4 separate regions of the Homo sapiens genome follow, and regions 2, 3 and 4 are each linked to region 1. Evidence: fine-mapped expression QTL. A gene starts in region 1. Each other region holds a variant in brackets. All regions are shown on one strand. Distances are from middle to middle.

What was found. PIP is the estimated chance that this variant, and not a neighbour inherited with it, causes the effect.
Region 2: its variant is fine-mapped to the expression of GSTM5 in whole blood (TOPMed, PIP above 0.99).
Region 3: its variant is fine-mapped to the expression of GSTM5 in subcutaneous fat (FUSION, PIP 0.93).
Region 4: its variant is fine-mapped to the expression of GSTM5 in tibial nerve (GTEx, PIP above 0.99). The same link has a PIP of 0.9 or more in lung.

Annotation. Positions count from the first base shown.
Region 1 is chr1:109,707,023-109,714,961 of GRCh38, forward strand. GSTM5 (glutathione S-transferase mu 5) reads left to right here and starts at 5,229. Exons shown (of 8, transcript NM_000851.4): 1 at 5,229-5,326; 2 at 5,596-5,671; 3 at 6,097-6,161; 4 at 6,462-6,543; 5 at 6,639-6,739; 6 at 7,925-7,939. The coding sequence starts at 5,291.
Region 2 is chr1:109,757,214-109,765,152 of GRCh38, forward strand. It overlaps EPS8L3 (EPS8 signaling adaptor L3), which reads right to left and starts at 6,710. Exons shown (of 19, transcript NM_133181.4): 1 at 6,609-6,710; 2 at 4,506-4,560; 3 at 4,282-4,346; 4 at 2,465-2,623; 5 at 2,025-2,174; 6 at 1,849-1,904; 7 at 1,311-1,450; 8 at 1,103-1,218; 9 at 731-845; 10 at 589-650; 11 at 268-342. The coding sequence starts at 4,536. It overlaps LOC124904258 (a long non-coding RNA gene), which reads left to right and starts at 2,652. Exons shown (of 2, transcript XR_007066303.1): 1 at 2,652-2,737. RefSeq lists an enhancer at 3,353-4,082. The variant C/T (reference allele first, on the strand shown) is at 2,615.
Region 3 is chr1:109,631,080-109,639,018 of GRCh38, forward strand. AMPD2 (adenosine monophosphate deaminase 2) reads left to right here. Exons shown (of 19, transcript NM_001368809.2): 19 at 1-972. The coding sequence ends at 73. Among named protein-coding and RNA genes, the nearest start is that of AMPD2, 15 kb to the left of the region's middle. The variant A/G (reference allele first, on the strand shown) is at 4,147.
Region 4 is chr1:109,667,164-109,674,444 of GRCh38, forward strand. GSTM2 (glutathione S-transferase mu 2) reads left to right here and starts at 894. Exons shown (of 8, transcript NM_000848.4): 1 at 894-988; 2 at 1,262-1,337; 3 at 1,762-1,826; 4 at 2,127-2,208; 5 at 2,308-2,408; 6 at 4,124-4,219; 7 at 4,310-4,420. The coding sequence starts at 953. It also overlaps a transcript of GSTM4 not described here. RefSeq lists a silencer at 976-1,145 and an enhancer at 2,661-2,760. The variant C/T (reference allele first, on the strand shown) is at 4,585.

The sequences.
Region 1 (7,939 bases):
ACGTCAGAGACTGCCCTCATACCTGGTGAGATCTGTGCCAACTCCTCAAAAACTGGCACACCAAATCAAAATGGATCTCATTCAATCCTCCCTAATGGCAACAGAGACCCCTCTAACTAATCCCACTTCTCCTAATTACCTTTCTTTTTCTCCTTACAAACCTGAAAATCTCACCATTTCTATTAGCCTGAAAATAACATCCCTCTGTTCTTCTCTTCCTCCTTCAGCACTGGATCTCGCTTACAATAGGTTTTATTTAATAATTCTACTCCTTATACTTTCTGTCTCACCAGTTTCCCCTCACACTGATTTGCCTGCTACACAAAATTATTCTTATTGGGCTTATGTGCCTTTTCCTCCACTTATTCGACCTCTCACCTGGATGAATGCTCCTGCGGAAATCTACACTAACGATAGTGTGTAGATGCCTGGAGCTATAGATGACCATTGCCCTGCTCAACCAGGAGAAGAAGGCACTGCATTTAATGTTACTATGGGTTATAAATACCCTCCTCTGTGCCTCGGACATGCAACTCGTTGTATCCATCTAGAAACTCAAGTCTGGGCTGCTTATCTTCTGGAGAGATTAGCTACAGGAAAATGGGGACATTTGGTCTCCGGCCTCTCCCTTTGTCCTTTAAGACAAATGAAAAGGGGAGTAATAGGAGATACCCCATACTTTCAATATAAACCTGTAGGAAAACTATGTCCTAAAAATTTTGAGGGCCCATCTAAAACTTTAATTTGGGGAGATTGTGTTAACTCACATGCAGTAGTATTAAAAAATGACTCATATGCTTTAGTAATAGACTGGGCACCAAAGGGCTATTTAAAAAACACTTGCTCCTCTGGGGGAGGGGAATTCCTGGAGGCTACTTATTTTATTTCTTATTGGGAGGACGAGGATCATCATCCTACTTTGCATAGGTGGTTCGGCTCATTCTTTACCTTAAAATGGGAAGATAAGGACATTACCCTCCACCCCCAAGGCCTTGTATGATATTCCCCATTCTGAGCCCAGAACACCCAGAACTTTCGAAATTGGCTATTGTCATGTCTGGACTGCCAGTATCTGTGATTCTGAACCCCATGATAAATCCCCTTTGAACCTTTTTCCTCTTTTTGATGCCGATCCTCCTTTACGGGACTCCAATTGGCATTACGATAATTCTTATCGACCCAGGTATGCCCCTCTACTTCTTCAGCATCCCCAGGCACCTCGGTTTGCTTCTTTATGGTGGAGAACATCGGGCATTGCCACCGCCGCTCCTCTCCCTCAGTATCAACATAGATTCAAGCATTCTGCTTTGTTTACCTCCAACCTGACTATTCCTATACAGAGTTGTGTTAAGCTTCCTTACATGCTGTTAGTGGCAAATATCAAAATTTGGACAAACAATCAAACTGTCCAATGCATTGTCATTTATACACTTGTGTTGACTCCCGTTTTGACTCCAGGAAAAGTGTAATGTTGGTTGGAGCTCGAGAAGGAATCTGGATACTGTGTGCCGGACCAGCCAAAGAATCCTGTGTCAAAACCGAGAGAACGAATAAGCCTTCATCACCATGGCACATTTATATAAAAAGAAAGGGAGAGATGTTGCGGGAAGTCAGGGACCCCGAATGGAGGGACTGACTGGAGCCGCGGCAGAGGAACATAAATTGCAAATATTTCATTTTAATATGGACATTTATCAGTTCCCAAATTATTACTTTTTACATTTCTTACGCCTGTCTTACTTTAATCTCTTAATCCTGTTATCTTCATAAGCTGAGGATATATGTCACCTCAGGACCACTGTGATAATTGTGTTAACTGTACAAATTGATTGTAAAACATGTGTGTTTGCACAATATGAAATCAGTGCACCTTGAAGAAGAACAGAATAACAGTGATTTTTAGGCAACAAGAGAAGACAACCATAAGGTCTGACTGCGTGCAGGGTCAGGCAAAATAGAGCCATATTTTTCTTCTTGCAGGGAGCCTATAAATGGACATGGAAGTAGGGAAGATATTGCTAAATTCTTTTCCTAGCAAGGAATATTACTATTAATACTCTGGGAAAGGAATGCATTCCTGGGGGGAGGTCTATAAACGGCCGCTCTGGGAATGTCTGTCCTATGCAGTTGAGACAAGGACTGAAGTACACCCTGGTCTCCTGCAGTACCCTCAGGCTTACTAGGGTGGGGAAAAACCTGGCCCTGGCAAATCTGTGGTCAGACTGGTTCTCTGCTCTTGAACCCTGTGTTCTGTTGTTTAAGATGTTTATCAAGACAATACGTGCACTGCTGAACATAGACCCTTATCAGGAGTTCTACTTTTGCCCTTGTCCTGTTTCCTCAGAAGCATGTGATCTCTGTTCTGTTTTTTGCCCCTTAAAGCATGTGATCTTTGTACCTACCCCCCGTTCGTACACCCCCTCCCCTTTTGCAATCCTTAATAAAAGCTTGCTGGTTTTGAGGCTCGGGCCGGCATCACGGTCCTACTGATATGTGATGTCACCCCTGGCGGCCCAGCTGTAAAATTCCTCTCTTTGTACTCTTTCTCTTTATTTCTCAGCCAGCTGACACTTATGGAAAATAGAACCTATGTTGAAATACTGGGGGCAGTTTCCCCGATAGCCTTGCTGAGGAAATTAAATTTATGTTCAAGTGCTATTTCTTTATGGAACCAAGGAACAAGTATTTCAAACAATACTAATGTAACAGTACTGGTTCTATGTGTTTCAAAATTATTATTCTCATGAGTGTTAGCTTTCTTAAAAAATCGTTTTTATCAATTGGATCTAGACATCTTATCTTTCACAGCTCAAGACCCATTAACTCAAAATCATAAACTCTTAATGCATAATGAGAAATATAATGATTCCTAGGGCCAGGCACTTGTGTCTGTGCTGGTGCTATTGCCTCAATGCAGGAAAATCTATGTGAGAATTCACTGTGAGGCCAAAACTGCTTCCTAAACATGGATACCTGCCAGGTATCTGAGCTGGGAGTACTGCCCAGGTCTGGATGGGTGGGGAGTGTTTGCAACAAGGACTGTGCCTTGCCAGCCTCAGTGACACAGTGTCCAAGTGCCCCAACTTAGCAGCCACCTGCTGACCACCTGATTTCTGTGGCCTAATAGGGATGTGATGAAGTCTACCTGTTTACTCAACCCCAAACCACACATTATCCAGGTGGTTTGAAACTTTTTTGATATACTGGGTTCATCCTCTGGAGTCCTAACAATGTTTTAGCTAATTTACAAAAAAACAAAAACAAAAACAAAAAACAAAAAACTACTTTTTTTGCAGCACAACAGCCTGGTTTACATTGCAAAATGATTTCTCATTAAAGGTCTATCATCTATTTCCATATATCCATTATTATTTGTAATATCCTTTAAAAAAAGCAGTCAACCCCAGGCTAATCCATTGCACAACTCTTTTGAAAGTCTTCCTTCTACCTTGAAAGAAGAAAGTTGGCAGGTTGGACATTGTTCTTGCGGAGGTTGTACCATGGGTCACATATCACGGTGTGACTTCAAAGGCCACTGGAGCCACCGTCTCATACTGAAGAACACACATGGGTCAGGAGCCAGGTCCAGGTCCGGCATGGTGGATCTGGAGAGGGGAGAGTCCCTGCCTGTGATCCTGTGGGGAGCCCTCAGGCTCCTCTCTGGCCACCATCCTCTGACCTCCCTCCTCAGCAGGACAGGGTTCTGGCTTCTCTGAGGGACAGGTTCTGTGGCAGACCAGGTGTCACTAACACAGGCCTCCATAACAACTGTTTCAGTACTGACTGAGTGATGAAATTAAATATTAAAAGCTGAAAAAAGCCAGTACCTTTATACAGAGGCTGGATGTAACAAAAGCCCACCAAGAGTTTTGCTTAGGCCTTTCCTGGGCCTTAAAGCATGACAAAACAACGAAGGAATTCTTAACAGGACCTATTTAGAATTAAACAAGTTTTATTGTGAGTCTGAAGAAACTCCCCAGGCCTCCACAAACAAGTTTACTGGGCATCTGAAGGAACTCCCCAAACCTCCATGATTTAGCAGGAGACAAGATAAGGGCAATCATCCCCCGCACCTGGACCCATTTAGATTAAGTAAATAGACTGAGGCTCCAGAGTAAGGTCCTCAGGACCCAGACCTCAGTTACAGATTAAAGAAGTTAATCACTTATGTCTTTAGATGAATGCACACTTACTTGTAGACATATACCTTAGAAGGTATATATGCTCTGGAAAACTTTAATTTTGAGTTGGTCTGGTAGTAATTTCCAGGCCTTCTCCCTGTAACTGGTTGCAGAAATAAAACCTCTCTTCCTCCCCATTTGATCTGCATCTCGTTATTGGGCCTAGAGAAATAGCAGCCGGACCCTCAGTTTGGTCCGGGAAGTTCTTCCATCCTCCCTCGCCTGCTCTCTGTGGCCACTGCACTCACTGTTGCTGTTGCTGTTCCGGTCTCTGTGAGGTTCACCTAGTGGACTGGCTGGACATTTCTAGGGGGCACCTCAGATACCTCACCAACTTGCTGGATCTGATCCTTGGATTTCGATTCATAAATTGTGCCAAAATACGAAGTGGCTAATTTACATAGTACTTAGCCAGATGACCGAAGGACTCAGTATCCAAAGGCCCCTAACAGAAAACACAGACCACATTTCCTTTACTCTGGCCCTTTTCCTGGGGGTCCTTCCTATACCACTGACACTGTTCCTGTGTAGGCGGGGCTAGAGGGGAGACTAAGCCCTCGGAGTAGCTTTCGGATCAGAGGAAGTCCTGCTCTTACAGTGACAGGGGCTGAATTAAATTCCCAGGTTGGGACCACCACTTTTTAGTCTGACCCCTGCAGCCGGAGTCTCCCAGAGCCCTTGGGAACTCGGCAGCGGAGAGAAGGCTGAGGGATTCTGCGGGCAGGGAGGAGAAGGGAGAAGAGCTTTGCTCCGTTAGGATCTGGCTGGTGTCTCAAGCGCACAGCCAAGTCGCTGTGGACCTAGCAAGGGCTGGATGGACTCATGGAGCCTCAGGGCGGGTTGGGGAAGCTGGCGAGGCCGAGCCCCGCTTTGGGCTTCTGGGCGCCCTGACCTCGCTCCCGGAACCCTGGGGACTGGGAGGCGGGAGGGGGCTTATTGATTCCAGCCCCGGGCGCTCGCTCGGGGGCCTACAGAATGGCGTGTTTCGGGGTTGTGGCGGGCCGAGGGGCGGGGTCGCAGCAAGGCCCCGCCTGTCCCCTCCTGGGCCTCTCAAAGTCTGAGCCCCGCTCCGCTGATGCCTGTCTGCAGAATCCGCACCAACCAGCACCATGCCCATGACTCTGGGGTACTGGGACATCCGTGGGGTAAGCGAGGGTCCTCTGGTGGGTGGGACAGGGGGCGGAGGCGGGGATGTGTGGAGTAGCTGCAGGACTGGCTCTAGGGACCGTTCCTCTTCAGGGCTGCCCGCCTCAGAAGGGCCTGTGCATGACGCTGTGTGTGTGTTTGGGGGTGGGGGCGGGTAGAGGAGGCGACGGGTACGTGCAGTATAGACTAGGGGCTGGCCTGGTGCAGAGAAAGTCACCAAGTCAGGGACCCTCCATCTCTGACCCGAGCCGCGGGCCATCTCTCCCAGCTGGCCCACGCCATCCGCTTGCTCCTGGAATACACAGACTCAAGCTATGTGGAAAAGAAGTACACGCTGGGGGACGGTAATGGCACCCTCGTGTCCGGGCCCTGCCCACTCACGCTGAGTTGGCACCAAGCAACCCATGGTGGCCACCTGTGGCTGCCTCTGCAGGCCTCCCCTGCTGGAGCTGCAGGCTGTCCCTTCCCTGAGCTCCCGTGAGTGAGCCCTCTGGCCTTGCAAGGCAGAATGCTGGGGCGGGATGCTGGACACCCTGTCTAATTGGGTTGGGTGTCCCTCAGAGCTTCCCTAAACCCTGGAAGCCTTAGCCGTTGTGGGGTCCAGAGCCCTCAGTGGGATTCTTTCTCCCTGAACCCTGGGATGTGGGACTGAGTGGTCAGATTCTAGATCCACCTGTCTCAGGGATCTTGCCACTGGCTCCTTGGGAGGGTCCCCGGGAAGGAGGGCTGGGCTCTGGGGAGGTTTGTTTTCACTTCTTCCCCACCACAGCTCCTGACTATGACAGAAGCCAGTGGCTGAATGAAAAATTCAAGCTGGGCCTGGACTTTCCCAATGTAGGTGCAGGGGAAGGGGCGGTTTTGGGGGAAAGTGCGACGTGTCTCTGACTGCATCTCCTCTCCCCACCTTAGAGGTGTTAAGATCAGGAGTCTTCTGCCCAATTCCTCTCACTCTTGGCTGTCTACACAGCCCTTGCATGATGTTCTGTGTCCCAGCTCATTTATTAGTGTGACAGTATTTCTATCTCAGGCCTGCCATGAGCAGGCCCTGGTCTCCTCTCTGCCCTTGCATATGGGAAGGGGATGCTGGGGAGCCTGGTGGCCCAACTGAGCTTCCCCGGTTTCCCATCTATCCAGCTGCCCTACTTGATTGATGGGGCTCACAAGATCACCCAGAGCAATGCCATCCTGCGCTACATTGCCCGCAAGCACAACCTGTGTGAGTGTGGGTGGCTGCAATGTGCGGGGGGAAGGTGACCTCCTCCTTGGCTGGGCTGTGATGCTGAGATTGAGTCTGTGTTTTGTGGGTGGCAGGTGGGGAGACAGAAGAGGAGAAGATTCGTGTGGACATTTTGGAGAACCAGGTTATGGATAACCACATGGAGCTGGTCAGACTGTGCTATGACCCAGATTTTGTGAGTCCCACACCCCACTCCCAGTCACCCATTTCCCTGCCTTTTGGCCCAGACCAGGGAGGGACTTCCAAAGTCAGGTCTGTAGCAGACTCCGGCCAGCTGACTGGAGACGTCTATAACCTGGTTCTCCAAAATGTCCACACGAATCTTCTCCTCTTCTGAAGATTCTTGTGGACATTTTGGAGAACCAGACCACGGACAACTGGATGCAACTGGTCATGATCTGCTACCACCCAGAGTTTGTGAGTCTCCCCAGTGAGCTGCACCTGGCAGAGTTTGGATTTGGGGCCAGGACTCTTGCATTCCTGCACGCACTGGTCTTTTCTTAAGTCCTTGGTACCACTCATCCTCCAAGTGCTTTCCCATACTATCAGCAGTTATTCTCACGACTCCAATGTCATGTCAACAAAAGCAGAGGCAATTCCCACCAATCTTAGGACACGATCCAGGCATCCCACGGTGGAAATTCAATTCCTAGATGGTAAAATTTGTGTTCAGAATCTCCTTCATCTCCTCTGGCCTCTGGCCTCTGTCATGGGTCATTTCTGTCAGTTGATTTATATCACCTACCTGCTCCTAGAATATACAGACTCAAGTACAAGACCAAGGAATGTAATGGCACCCTCAAATTGCATCTTCTCCTCAAAGTTTTCCAAGTGCTGTCATTGACATGCACCGGGATCTGCGCATTTTCATAACAGACAGCTCAGAGGCAGCCAGAGGGCCTTTATTCCTCTCCCTCCTTCCTTTCAACTTGAACTTCTCATCTCCCTGGAAACTAGTCAATGTTCATTGTTTTCTTCTGTCACCCCATTAGAAGGAACTTTCTACTTCTTTCCCTGAGCTCCTTTAGTTCTTTGCATCCTTGATTCTGCCCCTGTCTGGATCCAGAGGCTGCCAGGTGCTCGGGCGCTCATGCGGCTGACCCAGAGGCTATTGGGAGGCCAGTGAGGACAGATTCAGGAAGAGCATCTCATTCTGATCACTTCAGATAGGGTCTGGCACCCAGTCAGAGTCTAATAAATGCTGATGTATCCAATTGAAGCCTGGGCACTGCCCCGGTTTTAGTTGTGGGGAAGATGGCTGCTTGCCTGTGGCCAGCCTGGGCCATCTACAGCCCTGGGGAGGCCACGTCTGTGCAGGGAGCTTTTGTCTGAGGGTGGTGACAGCTGTTTTCTGCCTCAGGAGAAACTGAAGCCA
Region 2 (7,939 bases), 50 kb after region 1:
CAGTGAGGGTGGGAAAGGCCCAGAGTCCCTGGCTTCCCACTTTTGCAATGGTAGGATGTTACCTCCTGCAAGGGGCCCCATCTGCCTTGGGCCTGCTGCTCCTTCCTGTCTCCCTTAGAGCCTTGGCGTCCTTGGCTCTGACCCCAGCTCATCTGGTTCCACCCTGGCCCCTGCTCCCCCATCCCCCTCCACCAGCTCCTTTCCTCTCTCTACTCCTTCTTGACTTCAGCCTGTCCGTCTTCACCACCCTGTCGTCCCTTGACTCACGAAGTTCAGGGACTTGAAGAGGATGTGTACGAGCTCAGGGGCACTTGTCTCCTTCAGCCAGGTGGCCAGCCTTCCCTGGGGACACAGAGCAATGCCTGTCACCACCCTTCACCCCACCCCATCTTCACCAGGTCACCATAATTGTTTTATGCCTTGGCTGGAAGGCTGGCACTTCCCAAAAGTCCCAAGAGGGGAGGGGAGGTTCTAGGGGGAGTAGATGAAGAAGAAAAAGGCTTGGGATGGTTGAGTCCAGACAGCAGAGGATTACTGGGGAGGAAGGGGAAGAGGAGAGGCCTGGTGAACTTGTGGGGAGCCACCTACCAGGAGGTTGAAGCTGTGCTTGATCTTCTGGAAGCAGTCAATGTACTGTGCCTGGGTGAGACCTGGGAGAAGGGGCCAAGACGGTGGGCCAGAGATCACCCTGAGACACCCCTACTCCTCTTCCCTGGCCCTCAGTACTCACCTCCCTGGTCCTTGTTTTTTTTCCCAAATTTCTTCTTCCTGCTGGTCTTTGCCTGGGCCTTCTCCAGCTTTCCCATGAACAGCTCAATGTCCCTTAGGACATGGTTCAGCACTTCCTGGGCCCCAAACAACCCATGGCCTTGAACGGGCAGTTGGGCCCACCCTGGAACTCCCCACACTGCCCCCCGCACCCCTCCCCACCACAAGCCCCAGCCTCAGGCCCAGCCTGGAGTATAAACAAGCCTCTCTGGCCTCCTGGCCCAGGCCCTGGCCATCCTGGGACCCTGGCCTCCTAGAAAAAGAGGGAGGGTTGGTGTCCTTCCTTTTCCCAGGCCCAGAAAGCCTCAGCAAACTCAAGACCATCCGCAGTTACCTCGTCCCTCTCTGGGTCCTCGGGGGAAGAGGACCGCCTTGGAGGAGGCAGAGTAAAGGCACTTGGTTCTCGGGCACTGGTGTGGCGTGGCAGGGGCCTTGGGGATGGTGGGAGGCCTGCAGTGTAAGGGGACCATGGACCTAGATCTTAGATCTTTGACTTTTCATCGAAACCCTCTCCTTCACCTGCCCCCATGCCCCAAACTTACTGTGCTCTAGGGTCCTCTGGTGGGGCTGTTCTGGAGGGATCCCCGGCTCCAGATAGCGTGCCTGCTCCATAGGGAGCGGCCTTTCCATAGCAGGCCCCCTCCATCTGTCCTGGCCTGGCTGAAGGCCTCCAAGTCGAGGTCTGCTGAGGACATGGTAGGGGCCACATCTTTGACAAGGTTCTTTGGAGAGAGGCCCTCCCCACAATTCTGCTCCAGGACCCAGGGGCACCACCACCTCTCTCCAGGAGTCCCACCCCCTGCTCCCTGGTCTCCTTCTGGACCCACCCCTGACTCCACCCTGCCTCATCTGCCTACCCTCTGGGCCCTCTTGGGTCCCATCTCAGTCTCTGAGGACAGTCTCTAGTGCCCTCTGGGCCCAGCCCCTTGCCTATGCCCACCTCTGTCCTGGCTCCTCCTCAGTCCAGGCCCAGGTTGGTTGGGCCACAACCTCCTGGGTGCCCCAAGATATGGGGTCAGGGTCTGGCCCCCGAGGCTGAGCTGGGAGGCCCCATAGGTGGGCTGGGCAGAGGCTGCCTACCTTTGCTCCAGCTCTTCCTCCAGAGCCTTCTGCAGGCTGGTCTTCAGTCGCTCTGCCTGGGAAGCAGCAGTCAGGCAGGCTAAGTGTGTGTGTGTGTGTGTGTGTGTGTGTGTGTGTGTGTGGTGGGGTGATGGTCGATGAACCCCACCCCTGACCAATCACCCCCGACCACTCACCCCCACTTCCTGGCACTGGAAGAGCAGAGTGCTAGTGCCTGGCAGGCCCGGCTCCTGCACGGTGATGGACAGGATGGAGTTGTAGGAACATGTGTTGAGCGCCACATTCATGGCCTGGATGCTGTCTAGGCGGTAAGAGTCCAGCTCCTCCTGGGCCAGGTGGAGAGGTCAACTGTGAGGCCACCAGAGCTAGGTGTGGCTTCTGGGAGCTCCTGACCAGCTCATCCTAGCCCTTTGGTGGCCTAGGGCTGAGGTGTCATCTACCTGACTCTTGTGCCTCTGTCCCCAGCCTCTGTCCCCTGTCTCTTCCTAGGCTTGGGTGTGTGTTGTATGTGGGGAGAGTGGCTGCCCTTTGGGGCATGGAGGGTGGAGTTCAAGAGCTAGTGCTTGCTTCCCCACAGCCCAGGCTGGCTATCACTGGGTTTGCTGGGAAGGCTGACCTTGGTCTCAATGTCCAGCAGCTGCAGCCAGCCGTCCCTGACCTGCAGGATCAAGTCTTGGCTCCACACCCGGCCCTGTGCATCCATCTCGAACAGCTTCTGCAAGGCATCCTCGGGCCCCTGGACTCTCTGACTCCCCTGCTTGCATGT[C/T]ATCAAGTGCTGCAGGGAGAGGGGGAGTCCTAGGACTGGGAGAAAGCTCAGAGAGGTGGACCACAGGCGTGCTGGGTAGAGAAAAGCAGAAGAGGAAGAAGACGTGTCCTCGGCCCCCTTGAGGTAGGAGGTTCCAGGCTTCAGATAAAGCAACTTTCCAGGGCCAATGTGAGGGACGGTGTCGAAGCACTGGGGCCAGGGATAGGGCCTCCAAGTCTGAGTCTGAGGGGCTGCAGGAGGGGTTTGAGGACTCTGGAGGAAGGACAGGCATGGCCTTTACTAGTCCAGGCCAGGTGAGGCAGCTGGGTGGTGGAGGATGTGGGCTCCAGCCACCCAACAAATAACTCCTCTGGAGGTGATACAGGACCCTCAGATTCTGTCCCTGGCTTCCTTTGTTCCTTTTGGGAACTCAGTCCCAGCCCAGTCTTCCTCCTCACTCACCCAGCATTCCTGTCTCCTTCTCCCTGGTTCATGCCTGGAGATATCCATCGTGATCTCAGTCTCCGCTCAAGTCCTTGCCTACTGCTAGGCTGACCATCCAGGAGTTTTTTGCTGTTATCCACTCTCCTTTAGGAGCCCCCTCCCTTCTCCCAGCCAAACATTACCTTCACAAGGCCCCTTCCACCCAGGCTTCTTGTGGTAGGGAGATGCAGCCTGCCTCCTGCCCTTTGACCCCACCCCCCTGCCCAGGGCCCAGCTCTTCTCCCTGTGTTCGCACTGCCAGCATATTCAGGGGACTCTGGCATCATGAGCAAACTCCATCCTCCTCTTGCTCTGCCTGCTGGGCCTAAAAGAAGCCTCTTCCCAGCCTCCACCCTACAGAGAAGCTGAGTCCTCCTGGCCTCTCCTCGGCTGGCTAGGGGAGCTCTGCCTCTGCTGCCCTGTGGGACCTGCTGCCCTGTGGGACCTGCAGACCATCGCCCCAGCTCCCTCCCTGCTTGTTCTCCATTGGAGCCACTAACAAGTGGTGGCCAGGACAGGATGGCTTCTACCCCAGAGCTCCAGCCTGACCCTCTGCCTGCTCTCCCCACCACGCCCTTGTAGCCTGTGCTTCGCCTTCACCTTGGTGTCGACAGCCCTTCAGGCACCTAAATCTTGCAGTGCCTGCATCATCCTCCCTGGTAGAGCCAGAGACTCCATTCTAGCCTTGGAGCAGCCTCGGAGCTGCTCACAGTCACCCTGGAGGCTTGGGCCCAGGTGCCTCCCCTCTCCAACAGTGGCCCTCTCAATCCCCCACAGGGCCCAAAGATCCCAAAGATCCCACACACTCCTGCCTCCAGCCATGCAAGGTCTTGGGCAATGGAGCAGTGCCCTGGGGACTCGGGCAGCAGGGGGTTGGGAGACAGGGGAGGGTAGGTGGGTGGGTGGTTGTAGGTGCTTCTTATCCCATCCTGCTGCTACTTCTTCCTGTCTGGGGACAGGACACTCACCCGCTCAACCTCCAGCCAGGCCTGCTCTGTTCAATCTGACCACCCCTCCCCGTCCCTGACACTGAGCAGATGCTCTGGCAGGCTTGTTGGATCTGAGTCCATGCGACATGGTTGGGACAGGCTGTTGGCTTCTGGGGCAGGGACTTGTGTGAAGTGTCCATGTTCTGGCAGGGCGGTGGGCACATGGGAACACTTGGGTTTAGTTGGACACTGCCCGGGGGCTGCAGAGGTACTCACCTCCACCCTGTGCTGCAGGAGGGTGGGCTCTGAGGTGAGGTTCTGGGAGTACTCCTTCCGGTGCACTACAAGGGCACAGAGCAAGGGGCGGGAGGTGGGCAGAAGAACGAGGTGAGACTCAGGCAACTGCTGGGGGCAGTTGGTGTGAGGAAGGGGGAGTGGAGGATGGGACATTCTGGGGGCTCAGTGGGAGGGCACGGGAGAGGGGCCTGCCAGGAGCTTACAGTAAATGGCTCTGCTGCTGGGCCTTGACATGTTGACGCTGCTGAGGACGGCTCCCTAGAACCCAAAGTGAACCAGAGGCAGCCATCAGAGCTGGGGAAAGGTGTACCAGGCACAGCAGGGCAGGACAGTTGCTATTGCTCTGACTGGGGGCCTCTGGGACCAGACCCAAAGCCCCTGGCTCCAGGGGCCCTTTCCGGAGCCATCTGCAGCCAGCGTCCTCCACTGAGGAGCCCTCCATCCTGGCTGGGCCTGGAGGCCCCGGGCTGAGGGAAGGGAGGGTCAGGGAGGCCACAGCATGGCTGGGCCTCAGGGAAGGCTCCAGGCCTCCCATGGTTTGGCTGATAAAGCTCATGCCAAGGAGCCCAGGAAACCTGGATGGACAGGGACCTGCGTTCAGATCCTATCTTGGGCCTGGGTATGAAAGATGCTGGATGAGCAGAGGGTTCTGTAGCCGACCCCGCCAGAGGAGGCCCTCTTGTTCGACCCTGTTTCAGTTCTGCAAACTGAGAGGACGCTGATGCTGGCTCTTCAGCTGTAGACCCTCTGGGAAGACTGCATGCATGTGTGTGTGTACTTATGGTGGCACTGCAGGACTCGCCAGTGAGCTGACCTCCCCCAAGTGTCTCCCTAGGCCTCCTGGCTCTTTGCTTTTTGTACTCTGTATCCTCTGCCCAGGTCCCCTCCTGACCCCAACCCTTTAAATTCTAGCTCAAAGATCACCCTCTTGGTGAAGCCCTCCTGGACCATCCAACCCCACCCTGCCCAGGGTACCCTCCTAATGCTGCACTGGACCTTGTACATTTATCTCCAGCAACAATAGTCACAATAGCCACCACGGTGCTGTGAGCCTGGTGCTGAGCCCCTTACCAACATCCTATCAGTTTCTCCTCACTGCCGTCCACTTGTACTTACTTGGCGCCACGTGCCTAGCACTGTTCTAACGGCGTTACCTTCAGTCACTCTAATCCTCAAAACAACCTCACAAGGCAGGTACTGGTATTGTCCCCATTTACCATATGAGGACTCTGAGGCTCAAAGACGGTAACAGGCCTGAGGTCACAAATGAACGTTTAATAGAGAGCAACCCAGATCTGTCCGATTGCAAGCTTCGTGTTTTAATGGTTTATAAACATGCCTCTGCCGCTGGGCTGTGCGCAGTCACAGAGGGAGTCTAGAGAACATACATGTTGAAATGGAGTGGAATTAAATGTGGTGTGTGTGTCCCGGGTGGGGGTGGTGTTAGTCTGTGCGGGTCAAGGGTATGTGTTATCCAAATGAGGTTTGTGGGTATCCACATGTCTACATGGTACACCTCAGTTGTGCAGAAATACTGGACTACCCCGGGTAACATGTGAGAGAGCAACCCATACCCTTGTTTATTAGGACTGTTGTGAAAATGACGTAGGATCTGATAAGATGACTCAGTGTGGAAGGAAATAAACTGCCAGTGAACAATTAAGGGAATGTGGAAGGGACGGCTGGATCTCTGGTTTCCTTGTTTGGGAGGACCCCTTTTCTCTCCAGGGGTAAGGCGGGGCTAGAAGCCTGTTCCCCTTCCCCAGCCTCCCCCAACCCCCATTGTAACACTTCCTGCTTCTCCATGCTCTCCATGCAGAAGAGGAAGTGAGGTCTGCCCCTGGTCAGCCCCACTCCCCACTCCCTCAACACCAGGGTGGGCCCTGTGGGGCCCTCTAGGTAGGTAGGTCAAGGTGGGGAAACAGCTGCAGCCAAAGATTCCCTACCCCAGGGAGGGAAGAGGGAGCTGGCTTGGCCTGCCTTGCCCCTTAGGGGTAGGGGAGCTGTGACAGCCCATTTCCCCCCTTTAAGCCCTAGATGTAGGGGTTTGGAGCAGGGAAGGCCATCACCTCATAGACCCTGGGGCAAGCATCCCAGAGGCCCTTCCGGAGCCTGGACCTCGCTCTGCTTTCCAGCCCACCAGCCAGCTGCTGAGTCCCAAGCCCCTCCTTGGGCTTGATCCCCTGGGCTGCAGCTGGGAACAGGCTGGAGACCTGGCCTGGGAAGCCACTGAGTTGCCCCCACCTGCCCTGAGATCCCCTGTGACTGGGCTGGGCCCCGATCTTCCCTGGGGGCCAGGCCCTTACCTGGGTGCCAGTGAAGGCCGGGTGCCTGGTCCCCCCAGGAGGCTGGTCTTGGAGCAGGTGGTCCGGTGCTGGTGGTGGAAGGACAGCAGCTTCTCTGCTAGTGGCCACAGGCAGAGCCTGCCTTTGATGAGGTTACAGAGGCAGCCACGCCTGTGCTCTTTGGACTCTGGTGGGTGGGGAGGCTTCCTGGTCACTAACCGCTCAACATCAACCTGGACCTGCGGCAGTGTCTGTGCTGACTGGCGTCCCCAGCTTAGCTAGAGGCCCCTGCTTCCCTGTTTCCCCCACTGCTAGCCTTGGGGTGTGGCCCCCTCTTCCCTCTGCCTTTTAGGTGCCTACTCTGGGGAACAGGTCAGCATCAGGCACGGGGCTGGGACCAGAAGAAGAGAGCACACATGGCCCAGAGTCTGGGTTCTGTGGTGAGGGCACAGGTCGGCTGGAGGTGGACTCCAGGCTTGGGGGAAGCTGTGGGCTGGCGTGTGTGCCATGCCTGTGCGTGGGTGGCACCCATAGGTGTGTGATCCTGTGTACCTGGGTGGTGCCTGTGAGCAGGACATGGATCTTGTCACAGAAGATGGGGACTGAGGCCCCTGGGGCATTACATGGAGCGCTGAGATTCCCTCTGGCAGGGCCCTCATTCTGTCCCTACTGTTGTCCCTTCCAGCAGGAGCCCCCTTACCAGCCCTTTCTCGCTCTTCCACTCTCTTTCCTTCTGTACCCCATCTTGTGCCCAGACCCCTGGTGGACGCCTGGCCAGCTTCAGCAAAGATGGAAAACGGAGGCCTGCATCTATCTCTAGTCATAAACCTACCCACTTCCTGCACTCCATGGTATCGAAAAATCTTTCTTGGCACTCAGAGTGGGCCAGGCTCCCCTGCCCTCTGGGAACTCACAGTCTAACCAACAAGGCCAGGTATAAACAGAAACCAGGGAGCAGGGCAGGAGGGGAGGCGGGGGCGGGGGAGTGCCAGTGAGCCTCGGACCCTCGTGGGCAGAATGCAGGGTCCCGGTGCTGGGCCCTGTGATGGAGTGTCCTGTGGAGTCTGAGGGCTGGAGCACTCCCATCTTTAGCTTCCCTGGAACTATCCCAGGATATCTCAGCCTTCTCTCCCATCACCACCCAACCAACGCTGCCCTGGATGGCCTGGAGTCCATGCGTCAGATCCTAGGGAGGTGCCTTCCCTGTCTGGGCTGTGTGTGTCCCTGGGAGAGTCCAGTGGACAGCCAGCTGCTGGGGCCCAGGGATCAGGTGCCTGTGAGGCCAGCACCCAGCCACAGCCCCATGGGAAGCAGTCCTGGGGTTCTTTCCCCTGGGTCCCCATCTTGTGGCC
Region 3 (7,939 bases), 76 kb before region 1:
GGCAGTCCAGAGTGAGATGCTGGAGACCATTCCAGAGGAGGCGGGTATCACCATGAGCCCAGGGCCTCAATGAGCCTGGTCCATGAAGTGCCCACCACATCGCAGCACTTTTACCACGTTTTGTCCTCAGACCCCGCCCATGCTGTGTGGTCTCTGCATGTCTCCATTCTTCTCTGTCTCTGTCTTGCATGTCTCCTACCATGTCACTGTCCCTGGGCCACCCAGTGAAAGCAAAGCCTGGGAATCTGCTCATTGTTGTTTGGGCTCAGGTATTGAGCCTGATGGCCCAGGTATTGAGGGCCTCCCCTGCTGGTGGCCCTGTCCTGGGATCCTCAGAAGCCTGACTGTCCTATGGGCTTCTCCAGTGTCCACAGGGGCTTGGGATGGTTGTGGGGGGCTGGCCCCTCTAGCCTTTCCGGTCCTTCCTGGGCAAATCTAAGCCTTGGCCAGGGCCGAAGTTTAGGCCCCTGTCTTGTTCATGTAGCCGAGGGGCAGGCGGGGGACCTCTACACCTCTGCTGTGGGCACGGGGCTGCTGAGGGTCTGTGGAACTCCAGCAGCTCTGCACTGGGTAGAGCTGGGCCTAGAGCTCAGTCACAGGCCTGGGCTTCCTGGCCTGAGTGGGTAGACGCAGGCGGCAGAGGTGCTGGACCACATCTCCGCCAAGTCACTGCCCAGCAGCCTTCTCCGTCCTGTCCCCAGCCCACGTGCTCCTTGGGTGTCAGCTTCCTGTGCCTCTGTGGGAGAGGGCAGCTGCCTTGTGTTATGTCTGGGGCCACAGTTGCTGCAAAGTCCTGGATCTGCCACTCAACCCCGGGAGTGGTGTTCCCAGTGTGGCTCCCAGAGCTTTGACCAGATTGTGATCCCAGCTGGCCCCTATGTTGTGTTCTGGACTGAGGCCTTTGCTGTGAACTGCAGTGTTTCATACGAACCATCTTTCCTAGTGCATGAGAAATAAAGATTATTTAAGTAATGAGGCAGGTGGGGTTTCTGTTGGGAGAGGGAACGCCGTGGTGGGAGGTGGCTGTGGATGGAGGCACCGTGCATTCTGAGGGGAGGGACTAGGCTTGGGTGATGTGTATGTTGTGCATGTGGAAACTGACAAAAGAAGCTGTGGGAGAGAGGAGATGCCCATCCAACCCTCATCCAGCCTGTTCCCTGTGAGGGGAACACCTAGCCCCGGGTCTGTGACACATCCCTGTCACACCAGCTTGGGGGCTGGTGTCTGTTTCCCACCTTGTACTTCCTCCCCTCTTCCAGCCTCTGAGGGGATGGCCTGGTAGATGGGAAATATGCACCTACAGACAAACCTGAGACCAGGGTCTTCTGGGGGGGTCTTGTTTAGATGGCCCTCTCCAGGCCATACTCTCAGAGATTCTGATTCAATAGGCAGAAGGTGTGGCACAGACATCTGCAAACTCTCGGGCAGATTCTATTGCAAGAGGTTGGAACAAGCCTGTGCATTCCGATTCCAGCCCCCCGCCCCCGCCCCAATCCCATCTCAGCCTCTGTCCCATGTTTAATACACAATTTCTGGAGCACCTCCCTGGCACAGAGGTTGCTGAAGTCTGTTCCCCAGGTAAAGAAGGAAAGTGGAATGTGCCCTGGGCTGTGCAGGGTCCTGGGTGGGCAGAGAGAAGCCTGTCGCTGCCCCTGCTGCTGGCTGGGGAGGCCTGTCCTCCCCTGGCTGGCTGCCTCAGAAGCAATTAGCCCTGGAACAGCATGAGCCTGTTTAATTGAGGGCCTGCCCAGAGCCAGAGCAGCTGGAGCAGGAGGGGGAGGCTGGGAGGCTGCTGGCTTCCTCCTCCTTTCTTGTCAGCTGCTCTCCCCCACCCCAGCCTCTTTCAGCAAGCAGGTCTGCACCTGGCCCTGGGTCTCCCAGTGGGTGCCCCGGGAAGAAGCTCTCCTCATCCCTCTCCACTTCCCATTGGCCAAGCCCTCTCCTGGTCAAGACCCAAGGCCCTTCAGTTCAGAAGACACCCCTTGCCAATTCATCCTGGCCACTTACATGTCACAGAATTGAACGTTGGAGCCCGATGAGGGTGGGAGGTGGTGAGTCCAGGGCTCCTTCACCCATGCTGGGCCTCGGCTGCCCAAGGATCCCCCTTAGAAGGGTGAGGGGAACTCACTTTTCAAGTAGGTGAATAATTTAATAACACAAGTGAGCTGTGTCTTGTCTTTGTTTTAACAAGGAAGCAGGATTAAAAGATTTTTCTAGAAGGTCTTTTGGAGGCAAGAACTGCCTGTCCTGTCTGCCAGCACTTAGGACTCCATATTTACTTGTTGAATTTGTCATTTAATAGAATCCTTCAGTTCACTTTCTTGTCTCCTGTTTTTCTTAGTGTGTGTTGAGGCTTAGCTCTAAGAATATTACTAATTTAAAGTTCCTTAGCAGCCTCTTCACGGTTTATTTTTGAAACGAGGTCTTGCTCTATTGTCCAGGCTGCAGTGACCTCCTGGGCTCAAGTGATCCTCCCACCCCAGCCTCATGAGTAGCTGGGACTACAGGCACGTGCCACCTGTAGACGGGGTTTCACCATGCTGTGCAGGCTGATCCTGAACTCCTGGGTTCAAAGTGCTGGGATTACAGGCGTGAGCCACCGCACCCAACCCACAATTTATTTTTTAAACAACTTGCCTCTGGTTTCTTAGTTTCTCAGAAATTTCTCTTTCAAATATTTATCAAGAGAAAATAATCTTAAAAGGCCTTAATACTTCTTCCTATTTGAAAAGAAAATCATTTTCATTAAAAAAAATTTGGAAAATATAGAAAAATAGGAAGAAATAAAAGCCCACTCATAATCTACCAGTTTCACCAAATATTTGCTGCATGCCTGAGATATATGTAGATATTTTAATGCATATCTGTGCATATTTCTGTATTCTTTTCAGTTCTTTTTAAAATGCTATTTTTAAGTTGAGATCACAAGAATGATTTAGGCTTTTTAAAATTTTTTATTATTATTATTATTTTTGAGATGGAGTCTCACTCTGTCGCCCAGGCTGGAGTGCAGTGGTGCAATCTTGGCTCACTGTAACTTTTGCCTCCTGGGTTCAAGTGATTCTTCTGCCTCAGCTTCCCAAGTAGCTGGAATTACAGTTGCGTGACACCACACCTGGCTAATTTTTTGTATTTTTAGTAGAGATGGGGTTTCACCATGTTGGTCAGGCTGGTCTCGAACTCCTGACCTCAGGTGATCCACGTCAGCCTCCCAAAGTGCTGGGATTACAGGTGTGAGCCACCGTGCCTGACCCCGGCCTATTTTAAAAAGTATTTTAACATACGTCTTTCCACATGTCATCAAAATACTCTGCAAATATGAATGTGAACTACTGTGCACCACCCCCGGTGAGCCTCCCATGGTTTATGATTACAGCTCTCCTCTGTTAAGAATGACTGTGTCCTAATGTGACCAACAGTGTGCACTCTGGGTTTGACTTCTGTTTCCACCACTTTCAGGCTGTGTGACCTTAGGCAAGTTACTTCCCCTCGCTGTGCCTCCAGGTCCTCACCCATTTCATGGGGATAATAATAGCACTTTTCTCACGGGTTGATTTTGAATTCATTCAGCCACTGGATATAAAGCACCAAGCAAGAACTCAGTAAATCTTAGCTATTATTATCTTTGCCTAAATCTCTCCAGATTATTCCCTTAGTCTAGATGCCCTGAGTGAAATCACCAGGTCCAAGGTAGAATTTTTTTTACTGTTCTTGATAGAAATGAATCAAAGTATGTGAGCAGAAATAAAAAGTCATTTCCTTGCCCTCGACCTTGCCTGCACCTTCCATGCCAGCCCGCCACCTCCTCTCCTCTTTTGGAGCCCCACCCCCTGCCCTTCCTCTCGACCTGCTGTGTGTGCCTGCGTGTGTGAAGGTGCCCGCATCTTCTTCCTGGTCAGGGGCCAGATCTCACATGGAATGGGGGGGTGAGGGGGAAGGAGGGTGGGTGGCAGAGGGAGTAAATAAAATAGGCAACCCAACCTGTCTCCTTCCAAGGTTTGGGACCTGTCCTGAGTGAAGTCGACCCTGGGGGACTGTCCCTCATCTGTCCCTAAAGCTCTCAGACTGGGAAGTATGAGGGCTGTGTGCCAGGCCACATCTCACATGCCCTGCACGGGGTCCCCTCTCCGTGTCCACTCCTGGGGG[A/G]GTGGAGGGGAGCAAGTGGGGAGCTATCTGGGCCCCCAGGCTGCGGTAGAGGATGGGTAAGGGTGTTTGGTTAGGGTGACAATAATCCTGATTTCTAAACCCTACATCAGAACATTTACCCTATCAAAGTATTGCCTCACTTATGAATGTATTCATATGAAATTCCAATAAAGGCTTAAGCCTTAACTCAGGTTTAATCCAATGTTTGAGAAATCACTATATTTTCAAAATGAGAGTGAAACTGCCCAAATTAGGATGCCCTGGGCAACCTGGGGTGGGTGGTTTCCGCAGCTGGGCCTGAAGCAGGCAGCCTGCAAGTCTAGAAATGGGGGCGATCTAAGTGCCTTGCTTTTGTGCGCATACCTGTCTTCTCCCGGCAGACCCTCAATGTCACCCCCACCCCCTGGCAACATGGGAGAGCTGAAAGAAAACCTCTGAGGGCTGCAAAATATGGAAAAAAAAAAAAGTTGAAATTGACAAATGTTTAATGAAATGCCTTCAGAAAGTAGCATGTCAACTTCAATATTTGTTAAGTCACATGCCATTATATTTGAAAACAATTTGTAAGTTGGATTTTTGACAAGAGTTCCAGAATATGCAATATGATTAAAGAGAAAGCATAGCCAATAGTAAATTAAATGAGTTACTCATAGTCAAGTAATTTCAAAAGCAAATTTATAAAAACCCCTTTAAAGCAAAGCAGTTATATTTAATGAGGGGGTGTGGGTGCATTTTAAATGCAAGTGAGTGTGGGGCCTCCAAGAATCAGATGCAGGGTCTATAAAGGACTTACTTAAAATGGCTCAGCCCCGCAGTCCCACTCTGGGCCAGGGGGGTTGGCTCAGATTTTGGTCTTGCCGTCACCTTCAACTCTCCTGCCTCCCTAAATAGTCTGGGCAGATTTGGAGCAGCTACTGCTGCCACTGGCATCTTCTCTGAATCTGTGCAACAGATATGCACAGCTGGAATTTCTGTCTCCCCTTTGCAGATGAGAGACTGACCTGGGTTTAAACCTGAGTGTTCTGTTTATTAGCTGGGCAAGTCAGCCCTCCTCCCTGACTTCCCAGGCCTGGAGGAGATATGCAAAGGGGAGTGGCTACCAATCCATTCCCACCAGGGTCCCAAGCTACTGCTGGGGTATGCTGGTGTGTCTACTACGCATTTGCCATGGTGGGGTAAAATACCTATGAGCACCTGGCATTGGGCTGAACTCTTTGTAAGTGTGAATGTACTTCCAGCTCCTAGAACTCTGCATGATATCTATCACCATATTCCCTCGCGTCAACAGGGAGAATGAGGTTCGGGAGGTTATGTAACTTATCCAGGATGACTCAGCTAATGAGTGCCAGAGCTGGGATTTGACCCCAGAACTGTCAGGCTGCAAAGTCTTTGTTCCTCCTACTCTATCATGGTCCCTGGGGTACGTGTCTGGTTGAGGGGGTCCCTCTAGGGGTGGGGTGCTCAGGGAAGGGACAGGGTCAGGCTCTGATGAGCAGAAGGATCAGTGCGGGTGAGTCTAGAGGCAGAAGGGTCATGGAGGAGGCTCCTGCCACATCCCGGGTGTGATTGACAAGGACCTGGCTGGTGGCAGTGTGGGTGGAGAGGAGCTTTTGTGGGGAGGCTGCTAAGACCAGTAGTTAAGACAGAGGTGGCAGAGGTGGCCACAGGATTGTGATTGGCTGGCACAGCCTGATATGAGATCGAGAATGTGAATGCTCTGAGGCGGCTATTAGCCTGACCCCTCCCGGTTACCTTATACCCATCCCAGTCCATACACTGCCAGAGAGGTACTGGGTTTGTGATCCCCGGGCTCTATCCCACGGCACAGCTGTCACTTATTAGCCATAAGATCCTGAAAATTTCTAGGAACTCTGAGCTTTAGTTCTCTGATCTATCAAATGAGGATATCGGGGTCCACGTGTATTGGTTTGCTATGGAGATTAAATGCTGTTTATAAGGCAGAGTTCAACGACAGGGGACTTGAACAACTATGGAGCTAGGTCAGAAACTCCACTGCGGGGACAGAGAAGGGTGGGCTAATTCCTTTTTGGAGAAAATAGCAATAATACCATGCTTGCTTTGTGCTTTATAATTTTCCACATTTGGTTTTTGCAACAGCCTTTTGAGTTGGTCAAGAGTGTGATTATTCCTCCCAGCAGCCTCAAATCCTTTTGGAACCAGGTGTGAGCTAAACAAAAGTTATAAAATGTTACAAGTCCATAATGGATAATGGTACTGAAAGTCAGAGAGTCCCATACTTTGCCTGGTCACAGGGATAGGAGGTGGAGAGTGGAGTGAGGACCTGGTGCTGGACTCCCAGCCCAGTGCTCTTATTTTGAGCTCCCTTTGGGACCTGCTGGAGATTTGAGTCAGAGCCTGGCCAGGGGGCTAATTGGGGGTGGGAGGATGGCTCCAGGTGACCGTGAAGCTGAGGTGGGGATGGCGAGGGTGGAACAGGGTGTGAGGCCTGGGCCTTGATGGGGTCACTAAGACTGGTTTTTTATTTATTTATTTATTTTTGAGATAGAGTTTTACTCTTGTTGCCCAGGCTGGAGGGCAATGGCGCGATCTCTGCTCACCGCAACCTCTGCCTCCCGGGTTCAAGCGATTCTCCTGCCTCAGCCTCCCAAGTAGCTGGGATTACAGGCATGCGCCACCACGCTCAGTTAATTTTGTATTTTTAGTAGACATGGGTTTCTCCCTGTTGGTCAGGCTGGTCTCGAACTCCCAACCTCAGGTGATCTGCCTGCCTCAGCCTCCCAAAGTGCTGAGATTACAGGCGTGAGCCACCGTGCCTGGCCAAGACTTTCAAAGGCAAGTGCCCATGTGTTTGTTTATTTATTTATTTATTTATTTATGTTTTTATTTTTTGAGACGGAGTCTCGCTCTTGTCGCCCAGGCTGGAGTGCGGTGGCATGATCTCGGCTCACTGCAACCTCTGCCTCCTGGGTTCAAGCGATTCTCCTGCTTCAGCCTCCCAAAGTAGCTGGGATTACAGGTGCCCACCACCACGCTTGGCTAATTTTTGTATTTTTAGTAGAGATGGGGTTTCACCATGTTGGCCAGGCTGGTCTCGAACTCCTGACCTCAGGTGATTCGCCCGCCTTGGCCTCCCAAAGTGCTGGGATTACAGGCATGAGCCACTGCGCCTGGCCTCATGTGTGTCTGTTTAACTCCGCTGAGCTCCCTCCTCTCACTTTTCCTACCACCTTGGGCCTGCGCACCCTCTGGGAGAGCCCCTGCTGGCTCTGAATCCCAGTGCACCTCCTGGGCAGCTGTGGAGGCTTGGCGCCCCACCCTCATCTCAGCCTCTTTCGCCCCTGCTCCTGCTCTTCTACTCCTGGCCCCATCAGCTAACTCCCATTTATCTCATTTCTTTCCCTGAATAACTGTTCTTTTTAAACCCTCACAGCAGCACTGTGTAGTATGTATTAGCGTTATCCGTATTTCACAGATGGTTATCCTAATGCACAAAGAAATTAAGTAATCAGCTCTGGTCACTCAGCGGTCATCAGGTAGAGCCAGGACTCAGCCCCAGGCCCATCTGACTCCAGATTCCAAGTGGAGCCATTATGGCGTATCTTCTCCAGTGGACTGGCAACCTCCAGAATCCTGCATGACCAGGCTGTCTCAGAGCATCTGAATCTCACATCAGCTGAGACACAGCGACATCCAGCCAGGATACGGCTGAGATAAGCGGCCTTCGGGTTTTGTCACAGGGTAGCAGGGGAACCTGGGACAATACCCAGCGGCCCACCAACTGCTCCCTTGTTGGGGAATATTCCTTGCCTCG
Region 4 (7,281 bases), 40 kb before region 1:
TGCTGGATGGATACTAATATTAAAATAATAATAATAATAATAATAGAAATCATAATATAACTCATGTAGTTAAGGTAAGTCCTTTTTGATGGAACATTTATTTCAGTTAATAATATTTGTGTATGTCTGTCCTGGTAGTTTTTTTTTTTTAACTTTTTATTTTGATTTAACATGAGAGTTTGAGAAATTTACAAAACGAATGAATACAAAGACCTCTGATTACCCCAGATTCTAACGTTTCCACATGGGCTTTCTCCTCCCTCCCCAAGTCCACCAGCCCCTGCTCCCCACCTTTCTGTCTCTCTTCCCACCCAGCAAGCTCCCTAGGAGCACAGCACCACTTATGACAAAAACATCATTTTCTTTTCTCTGAGGCGGTATTCCTGACGTTTGGATTTAGGCTGATAAGTGACAGTGAGTTATAATCATCCTTGCCTGTGTTGTCCTTCCCACGTTAGGTCTGTCATGCCACGTATGTCCGCAGTTTATAACAATCTCTATCATACATTGAAAAGTTTTGAAAACTTATCCAGTGAATCCCTGAGCACCAAATGTTCTTTTGTGTTATTTTTCTTTATTAGGCTATTATTACTTTATTCAGAATCTCTCTGTTTTAGAGAGAGCCTTTCTTTCTTGCCTAACCTAGAGTGCAGCGGCGCGATCATAGCTCAGTTCAGTCTTGAACCCCTGGACTCAACCAGTTCTCCCCCGCCCTGGGCTTCTGGGCGTCCTGATCTCTCTCCTGAAACCCACGGGGCTGGGAGGTGGGAGGAGATCCTACTCCTAGCCCCATGAGCGCGCTCCAGGCCTCCAGATTGGCCCGTTTCGGGGGCAGGGCGGGCCGTGGGGCGGGGTCGCAGCAAGGCTTCCCCTCTACCCTCTCTGGGCCTCTCACAAACGCTGAGCCCCGCCCCGCTGAGGCCTGTCTGCAGAATCCACAGCAACCAGCACCATGCCCATGACACTGGGGTACTGGAACATCCGCGGGGTGAGCCAGGGTCCGCTGGGCGGTGGGACGGGGGTGCGTGGGGGCGGGGAAGTGTGGAGCAGCTGCAGGACGGGCTCTAGGGACGGTTCCTCTTCAGGGCTGTCCCTGACAGCGGGGTCTGTGCTTGCCGCTGTCTGTGCGTGTGGCTGGGCGTGCGGGGTGGGGGCGGGTGAGGCAGGAACGAGAGGAGGAGATGGGGCTCCCCTTGTGCAGAGTCGTCACAAAGTCAGGGACCCTCCATCTCTGACCCGAGCTGTGGGCCATCTCTCCCAGCTGGCCCATTCCATCCGCCTGCTCCTGGAATACACAGACTCAAGCTACGAGGAAAAGAAGTACACGATGGGGGACGGTAATGGCACCCTCGAGTCTGGGCCCTGCCCCCTCACACTAAGTTGGCACCAAGCAACCGATAGTGGCCACCTGTGGCTGACTCTGCAGGCCTCCCTTGCTGGAACTGCAGGCTGTCCCTTCCCTGAGCCCTGGTGAGGGAGCTCCTTGCAAGGCAGAATGCTGGGGCGGGATGCTGGGCCCCCGTCTGGGTAATTATGATGGGTGTCCCTCAGGGCTTGCCTAAACCCTGGAAGCCTTAGCTGTGTGGGGTCCAGAGCCCTCACTGGAATTCTTTTTCTCTGAATCCTGGGATGTGGGACTGAGTGGTCAGATTCTAGATCCACCTGTCTCAGGGGTCTTGCCACTGGCTCCTTGGGAGGGTCCCCAGGAAGGAGGGCTGGGCTTTGGGGAGGTTTGTTTTCACTTCATCTTCCCCACCACAGCTCCTGATTATGACAGAAGCCAGTGGCTGAATGAAAAATTCAAGCTGGGCCTGGACTTTCCCAATGTAGGTGCAGGGGAAGGGGCGGTTTTGGGGGAAAGTGCGACGTGTCTCTGACTGCATCTCCTCTCCCCAGCTTAGAGGTGTTAAGATCAGGAGTCTTCTGCCCAATTCCTCTCACTCTTGGCTGTCTACACAGCCCTTGCATGATGTTCTGTGTCCCAGCTCATTTATTAGTGTGACAGTATTTCTATCTCAGGCCTGCCATGAGCAGGCCCTGGTCTCCTCTTTGCCCTTGCATATGGGAAGGGGATGCTGGGGAGCCTGGTGGCCCAACTGAGCTTCCCCGGTTTCCCATCTATCCAGCTGCCCTACTTGATTGATGGGACTCACAAGATCACCCAGAGCAACGCCATCCTGCGGTACATTGCCCGCAAGCACAACCTGTGTGAGTAGATTTGGTTGCAAGATGCGGGGAGGGACCGTGGCCTCCTCCTCGGCTTGGCTGGGCTGTGAGGCTGAGAGTGAATCTGCTTTACGAGGGTAGGCGGGGAATCAGAAAAGGAGCAGATTCGCGAAGACATTTTGGAGAACCAGTTTATGGACAGCCGTATGCAGCTGGCCAAACTCTGCTATGACCCAGATTTTGTAAGTCCCCCCACCCCACTCCCAGTCTCCCCTTCCCTACTCCCAGTCTCCCCTTTCCCTGCAGAGTTTGTGTCCAAAATTGATTCCTTCTGGTGAGTTCTTGGTCTTGCTGACTCTAAGAATGAAGCCGCGGTCCTACACGGTGAGTGTTACAGTTCTTAAAGATGGTGTGTCCGGAGTTTGTTCCTTCAGATGTTCAGATGTGTCCGCAGTTTCTTCCTTCCGGTGGGTTTGTGGTCTTGCTGACTTCAGGGGTGAAGCCGCAGACCTTCGCAGTGAGTGCTACAGCTCTTAAAGGTGGCGCGTCTGGAGTTGTTTATTCCTCTTGGTGGGTTCATGGTCTGGCTGGCTTCAGGAGTGAAGCTGCAGACCTTCATAGTGAATGTTATAGCTCATAAAGGTAGTTCAAACCCAAAGAGTGAGCAACAGCAGGATTTATGGTGACGAGTGAAAGAAAATACACTTCCACAGCCTGGAAGACAACCTGAGCAGGTTGCTACTGCTGCTTGGGAAGGGCGGAGGTGGGGGGGGAAATCCCTTATTTGGCCCCACCCACATGCAGATTGGTCCATTTTACAGAGAGCTGATTGGTCCATTTTACAGAGTGCTGATTGGTCCGTTTTACAGAGTGCTGATTGGTCTGTTTTTACAGAGTGCTGATTGGTGCGTTTACAAACCTTTAGCTAGACACAGAGCGCTGATTTGTGCATTTACAATCCTTTGGCTAGGCAGAAAAGTTCTCCAAGTCCTCACCTGACCCAGAAGCCCAGCCAGCTTCACCTCTCATTTTGATCAGGAGCCAAGACTGTGGTCCTGCCAAATACACGGGTCCTGTTTTCTGTTTGAACTCTTTAGTGCTACTCATCCTTCAAGCTATTTCCTATACTGCCACCAGAGTGACCCTCAAACCCCAAAGTCGTGTCAAATAAAACCTCTAAATCAATTCCCCACCAATCTACTTATAGAATCCTGACTCCCCAGGGTATGAATTCACTCTCTAGACAGTAATGGTTACTTCCAGAATCCCTTCCATCTCTGACCCATGACCTGTGCTTTGGGCCATCTCTCCCAGTGGTTTATATCATCTGCCTGCTTTAGGAATACACAAACTATGAGGAAAACAAGTGCAAAACAAAGGAGTAATGGCACCTGAAATTTTGGTGTCTTCCGAGTGCTCTCTTGACATACACTGAGATCAGCGAATTTTCCTAACAGACAGCTTAGGGGCAGCCAGAGGCTCTTTTTCCCCCTCCTTTCTTCCACTTATCCTCTGAATATCTCCTCATCTTTCCAGAAACCACTCAATGTCCATTGTATTCTACTGCTGCCCAACTAGGAGGAAATTTCTACTTCTTTCTCTGAGCTCCTTTAGTTCTTTGCATCCTTGATTCTGCTCATATCTGGTCCAGAGCCTACCAGGTGCTCAGGTGCTCCTGGGGCTGACCCAGAGGTTGTTGGGAGGTCAGTGGGGACAGATTTAGGGACAGTGTCACATTCCGCTCTGCCATCCCATCACCTCAGAAAGACTCCAGCTACCCAGTTGGAGTCTAATAAATGCTGATGTATCCAGCTGAAGCCTGGACAGTGACCCAGTTCCAGCTGTGGGGAAGATGACTGCTTGCCCGCGGCCAGCTGGGGCCATGCACAAAACTGGGAGGCCGCATCTGTGCAGGGAGCTTGTGTCTGAGGGTGTTGACAGCTGTTTTCTGCCTCAGGAGAAACTGAAACCAGAATACCTGCAGGCACTCCCTGAAATGCTGAAGCTCTACTCACAGTTTCTGGGGAAGCAGCCATGGTTTCTTGGGGACAAGGTAATGGGGGCGTGTGATGGGGACACCACAGATTTGTCATACTTCCTATATTATGGAGGTTTCAGCCCACATATCCTTGGCCTTATCCAGATCACCTTTGTGGATTTCATCGCTTATGATGTCCTTGAGAGAAACCAAGTATTTGAGCCCAGCTGCCTGGATGCCTTCCCAAACCTGAAGGACTTCATCTCCCGATTTGAGGTGATGCCCCCAGCCTCCTTTCTCTTTATGTCTCTTATTCCTTTCCCTCCTTTGTGATGCTTTCCCAGTCCTGGAGCTACACAAAGAATAACTCACATTTTTGGCCATGTGCGGTGGCTCACGCCTGTAATCTCAGCGCTTTGGAGGCTGAGGGAGGCAGATCA[C/T]CTGTGGTTAGGAGTTTGATACCTGCCTGCCCAACATGGCAAAACCCCATCTTTACTAAAAAAAAATACAAAAATTAGCTGGGCGTGGTGGCGAGCACCTGTAATCCCAGCTACTTGGGAGGCTGAGGCAGGAGAATCACTTGAACCTGGGAGGTGGAAGTTGCAGTGAGCCAAGATCGTGCCACTGCATTCCAGCCTGTATGACAGAGTGTGACTCCATCTCAAGAAAAAAAAAAAAAAAAAAAAAAGGAGCCGGGCATGGTGGCTCACACTTGTAATCCCAGCATTTTGGGAGGCCGAGTTGGGTGGATCACCTGAGGTCGGGAGTTCGAGACCAGCCTGACCAACATGGTGAGACCCCTGTCTCTACTAAAAATACAAAATTAGCTGGGCGTGGTGGCACATGCCTATAATCCCAGCTACTAGGGAGGCTGAGGCAGGAGAATCTCTTGAACCTGGGAGGCGGAGGTTGCGGTGAGCCAAGATCGTGCCATTGCACCCCAGCCTGGGCAACAAGAGTGAAACTCCATCTCAAACAAAAAAAAGAAGAAAAGAATAACTTGCATTTATTGAGTGCTGGCTTCATGCCACGAACTGTACCCAGCACATTATACCTATTGTGTTGAATTTGAAATTTACAACATTCCTACAGGGTGGTAGAATTATCTCCCCCATTTTAGAGACAAAGAAACTGAGAATGAGAGGGTCAGTCCTTTGCTCAGGGTCCCAGAGCCAGTGGAGGCTGTGCTGGGCTCCCTGCGAGCCTCTGGATCTATGGTTGGCAGTCAGGGCTCTCCGTTTTGTGACAAAAGAAAAGCCTCAGGCCTTGTCCAGCCTGGGTTTCATAGCCCAGGACACTTTGGAAGAGGCAGAGCACTTCAGGACCACGGATGCAGCTGGCAATAGTAGGACTGACACACAGTAGCATTGATGTTCAATACTGAACCCACAGGCAGTATTCACAGCTACACCCAGAAACTTTGTATGATTGAACCCCCATGTGGGGAATCCTGAGAGCCAGGGCTGTGGCTGGAGCTGGATTAAGGTACATATGTGGGTGCCCCTGTTGAAGGAGCTTATGCTGAAATGCCCTGTGCTGGAGCACTTTCCTTCTCTACCTCTTTTTTTTTTTTTTTTTTTGAGACGGAGTCTTGCTCTGTCACCCAGGCCGGAGTGCAGTGGAGCAATCTCGGCTCACTGCAACCTCTGTCTCCTGGGTTCAAGTGATTCTCCTGCCTCAGCCTCTTGAGTAGCTGGGATTACAGGTGTGTACCACCACGTCCAGCTAATTTTTGTATTTTTAGTAGAGATGGGGTTTTGCTATGTTGGCCAGGCTGGTCTCAAACTCCTGACCTCAGGTGATCCACCCACCTCAGCCTCCCTAAGTGCTGGGATTACAAGCGTGAGCCACCGCGCCTGGCCTCTTCCTCTCTTTTTTTCCCTCCAATGTTCCAGGTGTTCCCCCTGTGAGATGAGTAGCACGCTGATTTTACTCCTGTTCACTGACCTTCTCCTCTGCATGAGGCAGGGTGTGAGGCACAGTGGGAGATGCATAGATGACAGCCCCATCCTGGAAATGAGTGCAGTGAGAGGCCTGCAGGCAGAGCAGCCTGTGAAGTGTGTGCTGAACTTGTTTGAGAGCAGCAAATCCTACATTACTACAGATTTGGGGATTTGAGGCATTTGTCCAACAGGCTTCTGAGCCTTGAATCTGTTTCCCTTTTCCACTCCCCATCAAGAGATCTGCTTGCTCAGCTAGTTCCCATCAGCTCTGGTTCTGCGGTTCTGGTCCAGGCTGAGTGGCCTTGGAGTTAGGTAAGAGGTGGTGGGAAGGGAGGGATGGAGGAGAGCTGAGAGCTATGGCCCGTTATGTGCCAGGGTCAAGCCTGTCACCCAGGCTGGAGTGCATTGGTGCGATCTTGGCTCACTGCAACCTCCGCTTCCTGGGTTCAAGCAATTCTCTGCCTCAGCCTACCAAGTAGCTGGGATTACAGGTGCCCGCCACCATGACCAGCTAATTTTTGTATTTTTAGTAGAGATGGGTTTTCACCATGTTGGCCAGGCTGGTCTCCAACTCTTGACCTCAGGTGATCCACTCGTCTCGGCCTTCCAAAGTGCTGGGATTACAGGTGTGAGCCGGATGTTTTTGAATACCTTATCTGGGCATTCAATCCTGGTAAGATTGTGCACAGCACATCTGAGTGTCATGTAGCCTGATCTGCAGCAGGGCTGGAGATGCCATGGGTTAGGGCACAGTGAGATTTTGCTAAGATACCAGATGGAGAACCTTGGACTTTCTGCTTTAAGGGGAATGATTAGAGCCTAGTCTCGCCTTTGATTTTCTTGTGCACTGCCACTCCCCATTCCACTTTCATCCAGGTTTTACTGAGACATTGGGTGAGTGTGTTCAGAGCCCCTTTGTTCTGCTGGAGGTCCCTTCTGTGTCTCTATACCCAGACAAGCCAAGAGCCTCCCTGTGGAAAAGGAGACTGTTTGTGCAGTCAAGGAGTGACAGGGCCTGGTGTGAGGGGTGGTGGGGCAGAAGAAGAAGAGAATTTGGCAGAAAGAGGCCAGAACTGGAGAGAGACAGAACCAGGCTACATTGAAGTTCTATTCCCCTTACTAGGTATTTAAATGTAAGGAAGTTGCTGAACTTCTGTTTCCCACATGACAAATGGTGATAATAGATTCAGCCTT